Linked DNA regions of Homo sapiens. The protein of the gene in region 2 purifies or fractionates together with the protein of the main gene of each other region. This does not show direct contact. Each region holds a gene or a part of one and is shown on either strand. Other genes may lie near its edges.

Region 1 (4,462 bases), on a different chromosome or scaffold from region 2:
AAATAGTATAAACACAAATGTCTTGTTGTTCTAAACATTAACATTGGTTAATAAAATATCTTAACATTTGATGAATATTTTAGAAGGTAAACATAGAAAATCAAATTATAAAAAGGCGTGACCAGACAAAGAAGGGTTATTTTTTTCATTCATCTATAAAACAAATTTATGAGATCATAAAAAACAATTTAACAACCTAAAGAAGGTTCAAAGGTGGAAGAAAGAGCCTGAGAGAAAATGGATTTGTCTATGATTTTTGTCATCCAGTCTTAGAGGGGAAAAAACAGAAAATGTAGCTTCATTTTGCACTATAAAATAGGAAGCATAAAATCCAGTAGTCTGTATGTGGACTTGTATTTGTGTACTTAAACCCTGTTTCAATTCACAGATTATGCTGATCCTTCCACATATAAACAGCCAATAATGATGGCCAGGCCTTCAGGAAAGGAAAACACACACCACACAGCAAGGTCAGGAAGCTACCAAGCACCACAGGACAACAGATCAAAACAGAATGGTTTCATATGTTTCTATTGTTTATATATTTAATTTGAAGATGATATTCCTTAGGGAAGGGGGTATAAATATTACTAGGAACATGCAACACAGTATCAAATATATACTTTTCAAGCAAATATACCAAATATTTCACCCATGTATCTGTCAGTCAATCTGTAGTATTAACAGCCTTTCATTCAATTCTTTTTAACTTAGATTATCATGCCAAAATAAACCTCTTTAGTCGTAAACCTCTTTATTTCTAACTACAGAAAATTTATATTTACCTTTTTTTGAGGAAACAACCGGCTTCCATAAAAGTATCTTTTTTACTATAAAGGGATTAAGCAGTAGAGAGGAGTAAAGGCAGAAGTATTAATTCATTATTTCCTGGGTAAAATTTTGAAAATGGGAAGCAATGAAATTCTGTTTGGTATTAAAACATCTTTAAAAATTACAACACAATACGAGCAAAGGTGGAAATTTACCCCAAGTAGCAGACCAGCACATTTTAAACACACAAGCAAGAGCCGCCTCTGGCCACATGTTTTTTTGAGTTCAGTCTCTTAAAGAGACAGTATACGTAGACCAATGACTACACGGAGCACATTTCTAAAATGTTTATCAAGCATCCCTCTATTGCACGCATTTCTTTACAACCACATTAGGCCAACAGTGTTCTATTTTATTTTACTATGAAGTCAAATTATTTTGATCTGAATCTACAAAATGATTACAGGACAGGCAGCGATGAAATAATAAAGGGAGCTACTGTGACTAGAGGTGTCTAAAATAAGGCAATCTATACATTTCTTTCCACAGCAAACTGTTTCGCTTTGTTTTTTCAACCTTAAAATGATCATGTTTCTTCATTTTTCTACCCATTCACCAGATACAGGCGACAAAGTATATTGTATAGGTAATACCGGAAACAACAAGAACACTATTTCGCTGTAGAATGAAGCAGGGGGAAATGCTAATAACGTCAACCTTAATATATATAGTGAAATTTCAAATATTTTCTTTTCTCTTTAGACAGAAAACCCAGGAAAAGGCCCATACACGTACCCTAAACGTTGGACTACCTAGTGATTTCAGGGAAGATTTTGTCTTTCAATATACCGAAGGACATCTTATCGTACGTCTATTGGCATAACTACCGATCAGCTCCTCCACATGGAAAAAGATGAAGAGGGGGACAAAAAAGTTTGGCTTACTTGGTGTACAAATACATCGACTGGAATATCCAAGGGGCTTCCCTCTCGGTTTATCATGGAGATGAATCCAAATCCCATGCGCACATTGAACCACTTACAGTGGCCAGTTCCGCGCAAAACCTGGGATTCCTCCTCTGCCGGCTCCGGCAGCTTCCCGGGCTCTTCTCCACCACCTTTGCTAGCCCCGCCTGAGAAGGAACAGGACAAAAAAGTCAGTCTGTATTCCCATTCAATGTGCATTCAAAGATTAAAAAAAAAAAATTGCCTGCCTGGGGTTGGGGGGGAAGGGTAACAGAAAAAAAAAATTTTTTTTAATGGTTTGATTTCTTTTCTCCACAGAAAATACTTAAAATGAAAAGGGTTAAAAGGAAAGCGGGGGAGGGGGAAGCCACACTGTTCTATCGATCACACCAACTTCCACGTTTCTATACATACGTGTACTTATTCATTTAACTCCATTTTTCAGCCACATTTTACATTACAGCATGCGATACTTTACTTGTATATTGCTGATTTAATACTGATCCCATTGACAAAGAGAAATTTTCAGCGAAACTATTCTCTCCGGCGGGCACGAGGAGGAAAGAGAAATCGTGAAGATGGTTTAGAGCTACTAGTTAAGGCACATGGGGCAGCACTGAATCCAGCGTTATTTGCAATGTGCATTCCCCTCCCCCCCATAACTTTCAATTAAAGTTGGGGTGGAATGGGGGAGGGGGCAGGTGTATAAAAGTTTTCTTGGAATCACTAACTGAAACTGCGCTTAATCACACTCACACAATTCAAACAATAGCCCCCTGAAAGCTTTTCAAGTTGTGAATCAGTGTGGGCGGTACAAAACATTTTTGGAGATCTATAACAATAGGTTTGCAGAAAGCCCCACTGCGTGATGGGGGGTTGGGAGGTAATGCCCAGTATTGGGGTAAAAGGGGAAGGGGGGGACGGTCTAAGAAGGGTGGGAGAGGGGGAGGGGGAGGAGAAAAGAAGAAAGAAATTCACAGTAAAACAATAGAAAAGAAAATTAACCTTCGGCCATGTTGCCCCACGGGCCCTCAGCTCCAAACTCGTGAGATGAAAACTTTCCCTTTGGAACGGAGTGATCTTCTGCATCAATCTAACATCTTGATTTTGTGCGATCACAAATTTAGCTCGCATGGTCTAATGTGCTTTCCTTCTTTTGATTTTTTTCTCTCCTCTCTCCAGTTTCTGGCCCCCTGAGCACACGTGACTTTGTCAATTACATGCTTTCTTGCTACTAATTTCACCTCGTATCCTTAAGGGGCTGGCAAGAGGAAGAGATAACCAATCGCCATTTCATCTATGCTGACATCAAAATAATTTATGAATGAACACGAAAAACTCAAACATGTTATCTTAAAGACAATTTGGAACGCTTCTTTAGGATAAATCAGAATGCTGATTTCGTGCTTCTACTTAAACACAATGGAGGGACCTTGTGAATCATAGATTTAGAAAAAAAGGCAGTCATATATGTGCACACGCGTGCCTTACACACAAGCCTGACTAAAATCATGGGAGGGGGTCGTTTAAATAAAACAACCGATGTTAACGCTTTTTTTCCCCTTAAGAATTCAGCTATTCCATGGCAGTAAACCTGCTTGGAACGCTAATTTCATATTTAATTCAATTCTTAGAGGAAAATATATAATTTATAAAAGATCTAATTAAACCTAATTACATCCCCATGAAACTTTAGATAATGAAAACATACACCTAGGAAAAGGCAGAGGCACATAAATTACCTGATTATGCCCGAAATTTTTTCAAATTTAAAATAAAATCCTACTAGAAAAATCGTTTTCACCTTCATATAGTCAAATTGTGTTTAGGTAAACCATTTTGGAAAATTTTAGAGGGGGTTGGTAAGGAATTGTACTTCACAGGTTTCTCTGCCATCTCTTTCCGGGGGAGGAGATGTGATTAATGACTTCCTAAATAACAGCCCAGTTTTCCAGCCTAACATAGAGTGAACCTCAATCAGTGGCGATTGTTCCCCAAGAGCTGGAGGACATAGGGCAGGAGGGGGAGGGGATCGCCAGGCAGGGGAGGTGAAGAGGAGCCGCCAGGATAGGCGGCAGCAGAGTCAAAGAAAGAGGTGGGAGAGAAAAAAAGCCGGCGCGGGCAGGGGGTGGGGTGGAGAAAGAAGGACAAGTGGGAGAAAAAAGGTAAATTCATATCATATTGACTTGTACCCTGACATTTTAAAAGTCCACTACCAATGGCTAGAAGAGTTGAATAAACGAAAATGTAACAACGGATGAAGCTCCTACTGTCCTTCCTCAACTGACCCCCAGTTTCAAAATGCCTACCCCCTTTACCTTTCAAACTGGTTCAAACGATTGATTACAAGATGCTGGCAACAGTATTTCTGCCCTTATCGAATACTATAATAAATATTATAGATTAACTAAAAAGACTTTATTTCCTTTAAAATATAAAATATCGCTATTTTAAAACCTTAAAATGCACCACCAGACTTGCCTACCCCACCCCCCATTTTCTTAAACAAGCAGTTTACCAAGAAACTAACTGTTCAGATACCACTTCCTTCGACAAAGCTACCGAGTTGACCCTCCCCCACCATGCCAGCAATCCCCCTCCCAGTCTCTTCAAACACATCCACACTCCAGCACTGTTTCACACAAGCTAAAATGTAGGGATTATGAATCGAAGAGCTATGGAAAAAGCTGTATACACCTATTTATACTCCCTCCCCATATTAAACA
Region 2 (3,819 bases):
TCATCACATTCATAGCGCTTTTCCCCAGTGTGCATAATTTTATGTTGAACAAGGCGGGAATTATATTTGAAGGATTTCCCACATTCATCACATTTATGTAATTTCTTAACAGCATTGGTTTTCTGCTGTAGACTAGGGTAGGAGGTTCCATTAATGTTCTCCACACGTTTGCCTTGCTCACTGCCTCTCTGTCCTATAGGCATAGTCTGGTGTGTGATATGCTGTGGGCTCAGATGCAAGCTCTTCTCAGATGCCTCACCTTCCTGTTCTGTCTTTATATTTGCTGTACTCTTGGCTTTGCTGATTGCTTCCCTGATGCTGCTTTTGTCCTCCTTCATCCTGTTTTCCACAGGCTTTTTCTGTTGATTCTCTACCTTGCTATCCCAAACACATGTGTCACCAACCTTAGATTCAGGCATAGGATCCTCCACTTTTGGCCACTTAGATGCTGCATTTCCAACATTTTCATATTCTTCAGTTGGTTCCTCATCCTCAGTGCTCGTCTTCAAATGTGACACTAAACCAAGAAAATGAAAAGGACACCTATTCACTCTCTTAAAAAAAAACAAAAACAAACTGGAATAACAATGAACAACATTCACTTGACAAACATTTACTGACAACATACTGTGTGACAGGTACCATGTGCCATGTACCGGTTTTTAAGTACTAGGGATACAACAATGAATATGACAAAATTTCTGCCCCTGTGGAACTAATGTTAAAATGCTAGAACCCTGGATTTTCAATGGAACAATGAGCTTTTCTATTCTTGCATAACAGCTTAGCATAGGGCAGGGTGAAATGATGCACAGAACCATGGGCAACACCAATCAGTTTTTAAACAATGTCACCCAGTCATGGAAAAACAAACAAGAGGGCAGAAGAAATCTCTGAAGAAGACAGAAAAATTCATAAGTAGGACAAAAGTTAGGTAAAACTTTTTTTTATTATGAAAAGTTAGACAAAATCAGCAGAGGACAGACAAAACTAAAGAGAAAAAATTAGTACCTGGGGAGGGGTATCAGGGAGAAGGCTATGAAACCATGAAGACAGTTACTGCAGAGATGAGGAAGAAGGCAACCTGCATATTAAAATATATTATTAAACGTCTATAATTAAAATAGTATGGTCCTGGTACATAGACAGGCAAATGGAATAGAACAGGAAGTCCAGACATTGTCCCAGGTAGACACAGAAATTAATGATACAGATGATATCTGAAATTACCAGAGAAAAGATGGTCCTTTTAATAGTGTTGTAACAACTATGAAGCCATATGGAAAAAGATAAAATTAAGGCTGGGTGCAGTGGCTCACACCTGTAATCCCACCACTTTGAGAAGCTGAGGTGGGCGGATCACGAGGTCAAGAGATCGAGACCATCCTGGCCAACATGGTTAAGCCGTCTCTAGTAAAAATACAAAAATTAGCTGGGCGTGATGGCACGCACCTCTAATCCCAGCTACTTGGGAGGCTGAGGGAGGAGAATCACTTGAACCTGGGAGGCAGAGGTTGCAGTGAGCCGAGATCGTTCCACTGCACTCCAGCCTGGTGACAGAGCAAGACTCCGTCTCACAAAAAAAAAAAAAAAAAAAGATACAATTAGATCCCATTCTTCACACCATACACACATGAATAAACTCCATATGGAATAGAGCTCTAAATATAAAAAAGCTGTACAAATGCCAGAAAACATGGGTAAATGCCTCTCTGGCCTGAGTATAGAGGAAGCTTTCTAATGATGACTCATATGCAACAAAAGACTGATACATTTTCAAAAACTGAAGAAAAATAAACTACAAATCATACAGGAAAACAGGTAAAAAGATGAACAAACAATTCTTTTAAATGGTCCTTAAACATTCGACTTGATTCATAATGAGAGAAAGATAAATAAGAACTACTGTAAAACACCACTTCTCACCTGTCATATTAGCAAATGTTCAAAGCTTGACAATACACTGTTGATAAGGCTGTGGAGGAAACAGGCACTCTCATACACTGCTGGGAATGCAAACTGGCACAGCCCCTTTTAAGGGGAATTTGCCAATATCTATCAAAACTACATATGCATTTACCCAGAAGTCCTACTTTAGGAATTTATAATGAAGATACACCTCCAACAATATAAAAAACATACATGCACAGAGTGACTCATTATAGCATTAATTGTAACTGCAAAATCTGGAAACCTACATAAATCTCCAAGCACAGAAGACTGGTTAAATAAACTGGAGCATATACACAACGGAGTACTGAAAAAGGACGAGGAGCGCTTCTGAATTGATATGGAGCAATCTGTATATCCTAAAGTCAAAAGGTCAAAGTGAAAAAGAGTAATATACATGCTACGTTTCGTGTAGGAAAGAAAACAGGAAAACAAGCACGTATGTGTTTCTCTTTATAGCAACGATAAACCAGAGAACAATGAGGTTCATCACCTACAAGGGAGGAGTGTGGAGAATGGAGCAGAAGGGATGGGAGAAAGAGAGAGACTCCGAGTATATAGCCTTTTTAATAGTTTTTACTATACAAAATACATAATATTCTACATATTCAAAGAATAAAATTAAACATCAGTGAGGATGGGAAAGGAGAAAAACTGCTAAAACAAAACAAATCAACCTATTTGCATTTCCCATGAATACCACAATCGCAGGAAGAGAACAAAAAAGAAATACAGAAGTAATCCAGGCAACTTAGAAACGTATTTGACTACGTAAGTACATTCAGTCTGGGGAAAGCTGGAGGCGGGGCAGTGGGAAGAGGTACAAATAATTCAACTGTTAGCAGGTTTTCTGTAGAGGTATGAACAAAGCGATTCTGAAACAACTTTAGATGTATTAAGAACCTGAGTAAATGTGTTGATTTTGTTGGGCTCAGGGCTCTCCTAGAGAAAGGGACATAAAAATAAGCAAGAGAAGAAGGCGAAAATGAACCTTGGGATGAATTTGCAGTACTGGTGTGAACTTATGATTTCTAAATCACATATATGTGCATGCATGTATATTCAAGCCTGTATGGCTGTATGCATATATTTGCATATATTTCCTGATTTCCTAGTTCTGTTTGCTGAAAGCCCAAAAAACAAAACACTCCAGTGGTAATGAGCACATCTAGTACCCCATTCTGGGTCTACTATTACCATTATTTACTAAAAGGAACCAGAGCTCCTCAAAGAAATGGCTGATTGCAGGCTGAAAGCAGGAAACATACAAGATGAGCATCATGCTATACCAGCAAGTAAAGAGAGGCTCAAAAAAAGGGTAGGGACACGCTGCAAGACCCAGCTTGAACATCCAGTGTTCAAGCACCGTAATAACTAAGTATAGTGATACATTATAAACCACTGAAGATAGGATTTCATGAGTCTACACAGGTACAAACAGGGGAGAAAGGGAGGCCTCTTGCTTACAGCAGAATGTGAGTGCTGGTTGATAAATGTAGAAGGAATACCAGAATTGGAAAAGTCAGCACTCTGCAACTATCAGAGTAAAGACTGGATCAGGAGAGAATCATCAGTGAATTCTACGTCTAGGAGGAAATTCTGACAAGGAGCAGGATATCCGCATGGTCTTAAATATTTATAATGCTTAAATTATTTACAAGGGGGAAAAATACAAGAGTGGAGAGACAATGCCTTGGCCAGGTGTTCTAATTTAACACCTCCAGAGGGGCAGATAGACATAATATGCTTTTAGTAGGGAGAAGGACACATCACCTATGAGAATGCATTACATGAACTGAATCACCAGGTAAACCCAAAACGAACAATGTTTTCTACTAAAACAGAGGGTGGAGAGAAGAGGGGGGACTG

The links.
Region 1: the proteins of ZFP62 (region 2) and LIN28B purify together in Homo sapiens (co-immunoprecipitation; one large-scale study listed by IntAct). This does not show direct contact.

What each region holds. Positions count from the first base shown.
Region 1 is NC_000006.12:104,955,540-104,960,001, reverse strand, and holds the start of LIN28B (protein lin-28 homolog B), read right to left. Parts: upstream 2,896-4,462; 5' UTR 2,752-2,895; coding exon 2,742-2,751; intron 1,904-2,741; coding exon 1,716-1,903; intron 1-1,715. UniProt on the Homo sapiens protein: Suppressor of microRNA (miRNA) biogenesis, including that of let-7 and possibly of miR107, miR-143 and miR-200c.
Region 2 is NC_000005.10:180,850,977-180,854,795, forward strand, and holds part of ZFP62 (zinc finger protein 62 homolog), read right to left. Parts: intron 1,085-3,819; exon of another isoform or gene 1,012-1,084; intron 518-1,011; coding exon 1-517. UniProt on the Homo sapiens protein: May play a role in differentiating skeletal muscle.